Regions from separate parts of the Homo sapiens genome. Here region 2 is linked to region 1. Evidence: fine-mapped expression QTL. A gene starts in region 1. The other region holds a variant in brackets. All regions are shown on one strand. Distances are between the middles of the regions. Region 1 holds the start of NOP9 (NOP9 nucleolar protein). Region 2 holds the start of TGM1 (transglutaminase 1).

The links.
Region 2: its variant is fine-mapped to the expression of NOP9 in whole blood (GTEx, PIP 0.92).

What each region holds. Positions count from the first base shown.
Region 1 is chr14:24,296,706-24,302,069 of GRCh38, reverse strand. NOP9 (NOP9 nucleolar protein) reads right to left here and starts at 2,220. Exons shown (of 10, transcript NM_174913.3): 1 at 1,869-2,220; 2 at 1,213-1,662; 3 at 348-458; 4 at 1-105. The coding sequence starts at 2,115. It overlaps DHRS1 (dehydrogenase/reductase 1), which reads left to right and starts at 2,290. Exons shown (of 9, transcript NM_001136050.3): 1 at 2,290-2,489; 2 at 2,940-3,113; 3 at 5,189-5,332. The coding sequence starts at 2,964. RefSeq lists an enhancer at 2,946-3,736.
Region 2 is chr14:24,259,711-24,265,074 of GRCh38, reverse strand. TGM1 (transglutaminase 1) reads left to right here and starts at 1,898. Exons shown (of 15, transcript NM_000359.3): 1 at 1,898-1,986; 2 at 2,721-3,041; 3 at 3,192-3,380; 4 at 4,377-4,625; 5 at 5,017-5,135; 6 at 5,264-5,364. The coding sequence starts at 2,723. RefSeq lists an enhancer at 1,415-1,423 and promoters at 1-1,910, 293-1,959, 2,520-2,715, 970-2,723, 1-2,723. The variant G/A (reference allele first, on the strand shown) is at 2,567.

The sequences.
Region 1 (5,364 bases):
CAATCACAGCATTGCAGAGATGAGCGCAAAACTGGGGAAGTTTGCGGTGTAAAACCTGTAAAGCCACTTGAAGACAGAAGCTGGAGATCTTATCAGTGATAAACACTGTGGAGAGAGGGCAGAAATAAAGCGGCTTTCCCAAAATCCAGACAACCTGCGTAACCTCAAACTTTAGGCAACAAGATACAGGGCACTATGGACACAAAGGGACTATACAAAGTGCTCTGAACGTCAAACCAGACCAGGTTTGAAAAGAAGAGGAATAACCTGAGGTAAGGGCCTTGCTTGGTGGTAAGATGACCTCCAGACAAGTAGATACGAGACCATCCTCCTACTTCCCTCCTTACCTGCAATGTCCTTCAGAAAGGAGGAGCTCAGGTCCTGAAGGCGATTCAAAAAGGTTTCAGGGACTTCAAAATCAGCTGGCTTACATTCCTGAGCTGGGGTCTTCTGTGCTTCTGAAGGAAGATTAAGAACATGTGCAGTGGGGAGATCACAAACTGCCATCCAGGAGAGAAAAATTTCACAGATGAACAAGGATTCCGCTTGGAGATGCAGAACAGATGTAGTACAACTAAATGTCTCTTCTGGATGACTGAACTGAGACTACATTTCTGTCTTAATTTTTCTAAGAAACTTCAACCAGCTTCCCCATGGTCCACAGAAGACAGTTCAACCTCCTCAGCCAGGTATTCAAGCCATTCCAAAATAAAGCCTCATTTAAACTCGCTAACTTTATTTCCTAGTTTTTCAAAATGTGGATCACAGCTCAAGACTGTACCATGAAATCAAGTTAGTGGTCTCAACTAGCATTTTTTTTAAATGAAATAGAGCAGAATAGTTTTGAAAAGGAAAAAAAAATAACAGAGTGGGCTGCATGTAGTAAGGGTATAGTTTCCTGAACTTTTGCTTGAGTCCAGTGTGTATGTTACTTTTGCTTAAGTCCATTTGTATATTAAGTCATGCTTAAAAAAAATTCTCCTCCTGCGTCCATTCTAATAGCCTTCCCCAAACACAACTGTACATCCCTACCTCTGGGCCTCCGCACACACTAATCTTTGGCTTGCTAAGCCCTGTTCAGATTAGGACAGGTCAAGCTAATTCTTCCCGGTCAAGCTCCCCCATGAAGACTTACTCTTCTGTTTACTGTCTCATTCTGAACTTTCTAAATTCTTCTTCCCCCTAGGTCCACTTTCCTCTTGTAATACTTACCAGATGATTGGGAACCACGGGGCCTGGCTCTCTCAGACTCCAGAATAGTCCCTCCTAACACCTGAAGCAGAGTTCTGACCACGAAGCTGCCATGTGTGTCTCCACAGTAGACAAGAAAATCATCACACACCTCAGCGGCTAGTCCCAGGACCAGCTCCTCCAGGGTCTCCGTGGGACCATCCTTTCCATCCTCCTCCTCCTCCTCCTCCTCCTCTGCAGCACTCCCCAGCAATCGAGGGAGCTGTAGCAAAGCACTTTGTAATACATGGACCCCGCATCGGTGACAGGCCACAGTGCGCAAGTTAGAGCGCAGAGCAGCCCACACGCGACAAAGCGGTTTCAAGGGACTGAATCCCAACAGTTCCTGCAGCATCTCACTGCCAGTCCTGTTCGTGGACAAAGCTAGGGCCTGAGTCTCTACTTCCTTCATTATATTGTGCACCATCAGATCTGAAAAGGGAAGAAAGACACACTTTGAAGAGACTTAGTAGAGAATACAGTTATGTACCCTCGCTTAACCAAGGGTCGTGGGTCGGAGGCCGAGGAAGAGGACATGGGAAATGAAACTAAGTCCCCACGCCCTGCCGACCCTAGAAAGTTTCCTTGCCTGCCCTGGATTTGATGCTCTTGGTCTAAACCCCGAAGTTGCTGCCTACCTCGTTCTTCCCCAGTCTCGGGAGCCTCTTTCAATGCTGACAGCGCCCGGCGGAAATATCCCAGAGCTTCCGGGCTCAGGTGCGGGTGCGAATCTGGAGCCGGCTCCGAGCGCCCATCCGGAGGCGGCCAGGGTTGCCGCTTACGGCCTGGTAAGGGGCGCCCCGACCCCTTGGCCCCGCGCCCCCGTTTGCCACCAGCTGGGAACCGGCGCCCCACCTTGTGTGGAGAGCGCGGACCCTGCCCCATGTGTGCTTCGCGACCTGTCCGGCTGCAAAAGCTTCCTTAACTGCGGACGGACCTTCGACGTCGCCAAGCGTGCGCCTTATCCAGACAAAGTTTAGAAACGCGGGCGCGCTCCTGACGCAGCTACTACGTCATAGTTCCGCGCCGCCCCAGCCGGGCGGGGTGGGTGTGTCACCCAGATCGCTCCGCCCCCATCCGCAGGTTCTAACTTTGGCCTGGGACTCTGCCCCTCTACCTCAGCACAGAATCGCCCCGGGTCCTACTACAGAATCAATCCTTGAACACTGCCTCCACGTCGCCGGCTCAATCTGGGCGAGAACCCAGACTTCCACCGCAGCCCCGCAATCTGCAGACCTCAGCGGCAGCGCAGGTGGCAGGTAAGCGGCGCACGCTCGTCCCACTTAGGGCTTAGGATCTCCAGGCTTCGCGCTCATCCCCGGCCCGGAAGCTGCGCCTCTGGCTCAGCCGGACTGGGTCAGGCCAGGGACCGGAGCTTCAGATAGCCCAGGACTCTGCGTGGACGCGCCCCGAGGGGCTGCCGCGCCAGATTCCCATATCCAGGCAGCCACACTCAGAGGGTTGTAGTAGTTGTCCACCTCTGGACAGTCCCACTCAGCCCCTTCTTCACTCTCTGGGCCTCCCAAAAGACAGTCAGCCTTGTCCTCAGGCCCGCACCCAGTTGTCAGCCTCTGACTCCTCTCCCCTCAAAGGATTCTTACCTTGGCTCCTCCTCTTAGCCCTAGTGAGGTTCTCCCCTACCCCCCAACCTCGCCCCAACACACACACAGTCTCCAGGCTTCCCTCAGAGTAAGTCTTTGCTTCCACAGACCTGCCTCCTTTGCCTGTGAGTCATGGCAGCTCCCATGAATGGCCAAGTGTGTGTGGTGACTGGTGCCTCCAGGGGTATTGGCCGTGGCATTGCCTTGCAGCTCTGCAAAGCAGGCGCCACAGTTTACATCACTGGCCGCCATCTGGACACCCTTCGCGTTGTTGCTCAGGAGGTGAGTGCTTCCTCTGGGACCACAGTTGCAGAAACCACCCGAGAGAGCCCTTCCACTTAACAGCTCCTTTCCTAATCCCTTACCTGAAACTATAATACTACTCAACAAGATGTGAATATTTATTCAAAGTGGAAATTAAAAACCCCGTAAATAACTTCAGGTAAGGTAGAATTTTGCCGCCAAGTGAGTTTTATGAAAAAACTTTGTGTTTGAGCCAGGCATGGTGGCACGTTCCTGCAGTCCCAGCAGCTACTCCGGAGGCTGAGGCAGGAGGATCGCTTGAGCCTAGGAGTTGAGCCATGATCACACCACTGCACTCCAGTCTAGACGACACAGCGAGACACTGTATTAAAAAAAAGAAAAGAAAGAAAAGTAAAAAACTTTTTGTTTGAGAGCAGAGATTTTGGAATTGCAACTAAAGGGTTGTGGACCTGTGCTTTCCTCTATTTCAGGCAAGACTTTATTGAACTGCACATTTTTTACTTATTTACTAGACTTCAGTTAAATAAATATTTGAGTATCCATGATTTGCTAGGCATTGGTAAACCACTGAAGTTACCAAGACTAATAAAATCTAATTTCTGCTCTTCAAAGATTCAGTCCATGGTGGAGTACAGTGGCTCATGCCTGTAGTCCCAGCACTTTGGGTGGCCAAGGCAGCAAGATCACTTGAGGCCAGCAGTTGGAGACCAGTCTGGGCAACATAGCTAGACCCAGTCTCTACAAAAAATATTTTTTAAATAATTAGCTAGGCACAGTGGCCTGCACCTGTAGTACCATCTACTTGGGAGGCTGAGGCAGGAGGATCGTTTGAGCCCAGGAGTTCGAGGTTGCAGTGAGCTATGATTGCACCACTGCACTCCAGCCTGGTGACAGTGAGACCCTGTCTCTAAAAAAAAAAATTTTAATTAAAAATGAAGATAGATTCCAACAGGAAGTCAGGTACAGAAAGCAGTCACTTCAATGTAATGTGAATATGGTAAATTATAAGAGGGAGATATGCACAGAATACTCTAGGGGTGTTGGGGAGCATCCAGATGACATAGGAGAGTGGCTAGGGAAAGTGGTTTGGGAAAGCGTCCTGGAGGAGGTAGGTGGTTCTTGAACTGAGTTTTGAAAGGTAAGAATTAGGTAAAGGAAGTTAGGAAAAGCATTCCAGCAGAGGGAGCTCCATAAGCATAGGGACGCTGTGTGAAAGAGTAGATGTGTGAGATAATGCAAGGGAAGAGTAGTGAGTGAGAGGCTGGAGAGGAAAGAGTGGGTCTTGGAAGACCCTAATAGAGAACTCAGGCTTCATCCTCTAAGAGATGGAGATCCAGTTAGGAGATTTTGAACAGGGTTTGTGTTTTAGATAGGTCGTACTGGCTGGATTATGAAGAATTAATTTAAGGCAGACAGACTGGAGGTCAGGTGAGTCGTTGGGAGGCATTGCAGTAGTTCAGGCAAGGAGGGTAATAGGCGGGGACCCAGAGCATAAATTTGGAGAATAGGAGGATTGTTCTTAGATAAAGGACTCTTCTTCCTCTGAAGTTGGAGGTTTGTGGGCATTTGTAGAGAGTGAGACAGAACAGGAAGTAGAAATCATTCATGGCTGATAGCTTTGGTTTTTTCAATTACCAACCAGGAGCATTGGTGGAGTGAGGGTAAGACAACTGGGACTGAGTAGAGGTTTTAGGTGAGTAGTGTAGGGTGGGAGCTAAGGGCATGAGAGATGGAAATGACCACAACAAGGAAAAGGATGCTTACTCATTTCTCAAGAGCAGACTCCATGCCTCACTTGTTCTTACCCTCTACTTGCAAAGTACAATGCTGTGCACATGGTGGGCCTCAGTAAATGTTTGTAGATTATTAAAACTTACATTGCAATTCACCTTGCTCTGTGGTGGGGAGGCCTATCATTCCTGAAACTACTCAAACAGACACCAGAGGGCAGCGTTGCCTGCCATGTTGCCTCTGCAGCAGGCTCTCCTAGGATTGATTGTCTTCTCAGTTCTCAAGCCCACTTTGGTTGGGGAGTTTTGTCATGACTCACACCCATGTGTGAATGTGAGCTCATATCCCCTGTCCTACTCCAGGCACAATCCCTCGGGGGCCAATGTGTGCCTGTGGTGTGCGATTCAAGCCAGGAGAGTGAAGTGCGAAGCCTGTTTGAGCAAGTGGATCGGGAACAGCAAGGGCGTCTAGATGTGCTGGTCAACAATGCTTATGCAGGGGTCCAGGTACCCTTTGAACTTTGTTCCCAACTCCACAT
Region 2 (5,364 bases), 37 kb after region 1:
TAGCATTCTACGGTTGAAGTACCTTTGAGAATACTTGATACCATTTGATCCTCACAGAGTCTCAGGGATGAGATTTTTAGGCCCAGTGTACTGATGAGGAAACTGCTGTTGAGACTTGCCCAAGGTTCTTGGCCGGAGCGCTTCAGCACTGAAACCAAAGTTGTCTCTACCCTTGGTCTAGGATTCTAGACTCATGTTCTTGCTTCTGTATTGCTAAGGAATGGTTGGGCAGCGGCCTGGCCTCAGCTCCTTGAGGTCCTGAGCTGAGTGTCTGCTCCCATGGTGTCCCCCCACACATACCATGTACACACCTTGTCCTGACCTAGAGAGTCCTGAGTGGTGGTGGGGGGAGGGGACTGGCTCAGGGGTTAGGGCACTGACTCAAACCTGGCTGGGTGGGGAGAGAAAGATTGATTAAAGCTAGGGAGAGAGTGTGACAAAGGCATCCTACTGGTTCTCTGGGATCTGCCTGGGCCCACATGTGCTCACACACGTCCGGACAGCCAGGGCCCTGCCCCTTCCCGTATCTGCAGTGATGCACAAATCCGCAGCCCCTGCACAAAGCCCTCTGGCTGACCTGCCTGGAAGTTTATATCCACTGGTGTGTCTACTGAGGGTGTTGGAGGTGGGGCACCTGCCCCCACCCCCGGGCAGGTTCTGGTGCTTGGAGCTGGACAAGAAAAGGCAGTGTGGGTGTGGAGGGCTCCCTGCCAGTTCCTGGGGCCTCTCTGTCCCCACTCCCCACGGCACCTCCCTGCCTGATGCATCACCAAACAGCCCCTCCTGGATTCTGTTTCCTTGTGTCTTCTTGTCGGCCTGTTTTTACTGTCTTCTGCTAGGCGGCCCATGGGCAGAGCTGGGACACTAGTGGGAAGGAAGGAAAGAAGGAAGAAGGCCCTGGCTGACGGGCCTGAGGACAAGACCCAAGGAGAGCCTCCCTGAAGATGCCTAGCCTCCTCCTCTCTACCTTGGGATCGCCTTGGTGCCATCCTCAGTGTTTCCCCAGTGACGGGGTGGAGTAAGGATGCACACAGCACAGGTGCCTGAGCCGGTTGGTCTGGATTCCCAGGAAGAATTCCAGGTTGGAGAAAAGGGAATCCTCTAGTCCAACTGAGCAGAGACTCCTCTCAGTGAGAGAAAGGTACTCTGTACCCCTGGAAGGGGGACTCAGTTCCCACCCAAGCCTGAGTGGAAAGGCCTAAACATCCCCTAACCCCCGAGGCTACAGCGGGGGTGGGGGACGTGAAATGAGATTGCTCCTACTCTGATCTCCCTAATCCCAAACTTGAGGGCAGCTCACTCATGCCTGGGGCTGTAGAGCAGCTGAGAAAGAAGGGACAGACTTGGGGGTGGAGGGAGTCAGAATATCTGGTAGAGCCAGCAGGTCAGGGGTTAGCTGGTGGAGCCAGTCTGAGGGCCTGGCTGCTGATGTCACCAGTCTGCAACCTGGGATCCCAGGACCTCCCTGGGCAGGATGAGTTCCAGGACCAGGCCCCTGGGCCAATTTCATAGGGCTGAGCCTGGCTTGGGCTGCACAGAACTCGGCAGCAGGAGCCTGTGAGAGCAGAGGTAGGCAGCCTAAGCTTGGGACCAGAAGGTCGGCCAGACAGGGCTGTGGGTGGAAGGGCCTGCCTGCCCCACTGCCCTTGCAGCTTCTTCATCCGGGAGAAGGGGCTCCTCACATGCCCAGTCTGGTAGGAATCAGCCTGGTGCCAGGGGCCATCACAGCGGTGGCTCCCACCAAAGCCCAGCCTAAGCCCCCAGACCTCACCCCTGCTCCCTCCCTAGCATCTTCTCCCCATTTCCCGCCCAGAGGCCTGGCCTCTTCTCTCCGCCCCCTACAGCAGTTTGGCCCCTCCCTCCCACATAAGTCACTTACCAGGTCTGTCCCTGCGGCATCCAGTCTGTGGGTCCTGTCCCATCCATCCTGACCTGTTCCATCTCAGCCCCAGGACTCAGTACTGCGGTTGCCAACACTGCTGCCAGGTGAGGGGCTCCCACGGGTACTGTGGTGCCGAGTCCAGGCGGCCCACACTATCAGAGGCCGTGCCTGGATCCAGCAAGGTGGGGTGTGGGCCAGCTGTGTACCTGTCAGCCCCAGCTAGGCTGTTCCCAACACCAAGACTCTGCTTTCCCTGTGCACAGGCTCCGGGCACCTGCCATGCCCTACCCCTCCTGGCAGCCCCAAGTGGGGTCTTCCCTGACTTGGGAATGCCAAGGACCACAGGCCCCGGGGTCACTTGTCTGTCTTGTGAGGAACCTTGAGTTGGGGGATTTCTGCTAAGAAATGAGTTCTAGAAGCTGTCAGTGTTGTGCACCTCTAGACTGCAGAGCTAGCAGGTGGACGGACCAGGCCCAGGGATGCTGGAGCACTCTGATGTGTGTGCAGCTGGGTCTTGAGGCTGGGACAAGTGTCCATGCAGGGAACTATGTGGATTTCCTGGGATGGATCGTTGAGTGGGTTTCTTCATTGGGCAGTTTTTCGGATGTTGTTTGGTGGGGGTGAGGGGAAGGCTTTTCTCTGCAGCATGAGAAGCTTCTCTGGGTGAGTCTGAATGGTCTTCGC[G/A]GAAGGTCTCTGGATGTGTCTGGAGAATCTCTGGGCCAAGGTGGGATTGTTTCGGTCATCGGGTGGGACTGAATCAGCTGTCTGGATGGAGGGTTTCTGGGTCAACTGGCTGGGACTACCTGGGTTAAGGAGCCACCCTGCCTCTTCCTAACAGGCATGATGGATGGGCCACGTTCCGATGTGGGCCGTTGGGGTGGCAACCCCTTGCAGCCCCCTACCACGCCATCTCCAGAGCCAGAGCCAGAGCCAGACGGACGCTCTCGCAGAGGAGGAGGCCGTTCCTTCTGGGCTCGCTGCTGTGGCTGCTGTTCATGCCGAAATGCGGCAGATGACGACTGGGGACCTGAACCCTCTGACTCCAGGGGTCGAGGGTCCAGCTCTGGCACTCGAAGACCTGGCTCCCGGGGCTCAGACTCCCGCCGGCCTGTATCCCGGGGCAGCGGTGTCAATGCAGCTGGAGATGGCACCATCCGAGGTGAGGCCGGTCTGTCCTCCTCAGCTGAGAGCTAAAAGGCTTTAATGGGACCAGAGACTCAGCCTGGCATTTCTGGGGGGGATAGGAAGCTAATGATAAGGGCCTGGGCTCCTCATGGGGCTTCACTGACACGGAGCTGTGTCCTTGCAGAGGGCATGCTAGTAGTGAACGGTGTGGACTTGCTGAGCTCGCGCTCGGACCAGAACCGCCGAGAGCACCACACAGACGAGTATGAGTACGACGAGCTGATAGTGCGCCGCGGGCAGCCTTTCCATATGCTCCTCCTCCTGTCCCGGACCTATGAATCCTCTGATCGCATCACCCTTGAGTTACTCATCGGTCAGTGGGGCTTGGATTGGGACGGGTGAAGGCCCTATGTTTGGTGGGGAGAGGCTGGCATTAGGGTCAGAGAGGTCTTTAGGCTCCTCCCTGCCCCACTCCTCACCTCTGCCAGATAAGGCAGGTGCAAGTGTGTGGGTGTGCCCCTGGGGTTGTGTCTCAGAGAGGGTCTTGGTGTTGCAGTTTTTCCCAAGCCCATCCTCCTCAAGCCTCCTGGGGCATCGGTCTCAGAGTACTCCTCTTCAGGGCCTGCCTCGGTGCCTCCTTCGGCATTGCTGCTCTGTCCTTTGTGCATCTGTTCTCATTCCCCAGGATGTGGCTGGTTCTCTCTTCTATCTCTCTCTCTCCCTCTTGCCTTCCATGTCCCCCATCTCTGCCAATTCTGTCTCTCTCTGTCTCTGTCCCTCTGTCCCCATGACCCAAGGCAGGTGCCTCCCTTACCGCGTTGCTTGGTGTAGCTTGACTTCTCAGGCTGGTGATTATGCTGCTGCCTGGGGCAGGTGACTCCTTTTACCCTTTGATTAGGGCCTAACCTTGCCCACCTCATCCTTTAATTTCCCAGGAACCCCTACCACCTCCACCAGGGATGCCCTGGGCTCTGGAAGCTGCAGCCCCAGGAAGCAGGCAGGGTTGGCCTTCAGGATCAGGACTGCCCTTTCATACGGGGCAGGTGGATCTGCCCCTCCAGCCCAGGCACTGTGATAGTCAGGCAGGCAGAAGGTGACAGGAGCCCTCGTCTCTCCTCCCCACCTCAGAGTTCAGTGTCAGGGGAACAGGTTTGGGATGTTGGACTGCGGCACTGCCCTAACATGTGGGCAAGCATTGGGTGGAGACAGAGCTGCTCTAAGGGAGACTGTCAGAGAATAAGGTGATGGCCCAACGTAGGGACATACACAGTGGCTCATACACATTGTGGGTGGGGCCGGGAGAAGTCCCAGGCTCCATCCCCTCTCCTCAGGGAGGCCTTGCCAGCTAATTGCTGATTTCCTACTCTAGGAAACAACCCCGAGGTGGGCAAGGGCACGCACGTGATCATCCCAGTGGGCAAGGGGGGCAGTGGAGGCTGGAAAGCCCAGGTGGTCAAGGCCAGTGGGCAGAATCTGAACCTGCGGGTCCACACTTCCCCCAACGCCATCATCGGCAAGTTTCAGTTCACAGTCCGCACACAATCAGACGCTGGGGAGTTCCAGTTGCCCTTTGACCCCCGCAATGAGATCTACATCCTCTTCAACCCCTGGTGCCCAGGTGAGCAGCTGGGGTCTGGAGCAGAGGGTAGATGGGAGGGAAAGACAGGGAAGGGCTTCCTGCCCTCGGATGTGGCGGGGTGCCTAGGTGCCTGACCCCAGGAGAAGCCAGCCTCCCATTGGGCAGATGAGAGGACCGAGGCCTGGTGCAGAAAGGTGGCCAGCCCAGGGTCACACAGCCAGCCACACCTCTCCTGGCAAAGGCCCCTGGCTACAGCCAATCTCCTCCACCATCTGTCATGCTCCCCGTGTCCTCCCACAGCAGTCCTGTCAGGCTAGGGGCATCCCCGCATTTTCTTCTGTGGACATGAGTCCTGCAGAACTGGCCAGAAGTAGGTGAGGCCCAGGGAGAGAACTGGAGGGAACCAGTTTTGTGTGTTCTGGGGACACAGAGGACATTGTGTACGTGGACCATGAGGATTGGCGGCAGGAGTATGTTCTTAATGAGTCTGGGAGAATTTACTACGGGACCGAAGCACAGATTGGTGAGCGGACCTGGAACTACGGCCAGGTATGGTGCGGCTGGCCAGGGTCACATACACCCAGAGGAGCTGGGGTGGGTGTGGGGGCTGGGGTATTGGAGCAGGGTGCTGGCCTAGGGTTCAGGCTGTCACCTCTGCCCTCCATCCCTCCTTCCAGTTTGACCACGGGGTGCTGGATGCCTGCTTATACATCCTGGACCGGCGGGGGATGCCATATGGAGGCCGTGGAGACCCAGTCAATGTCTCCCGGGTCATCTC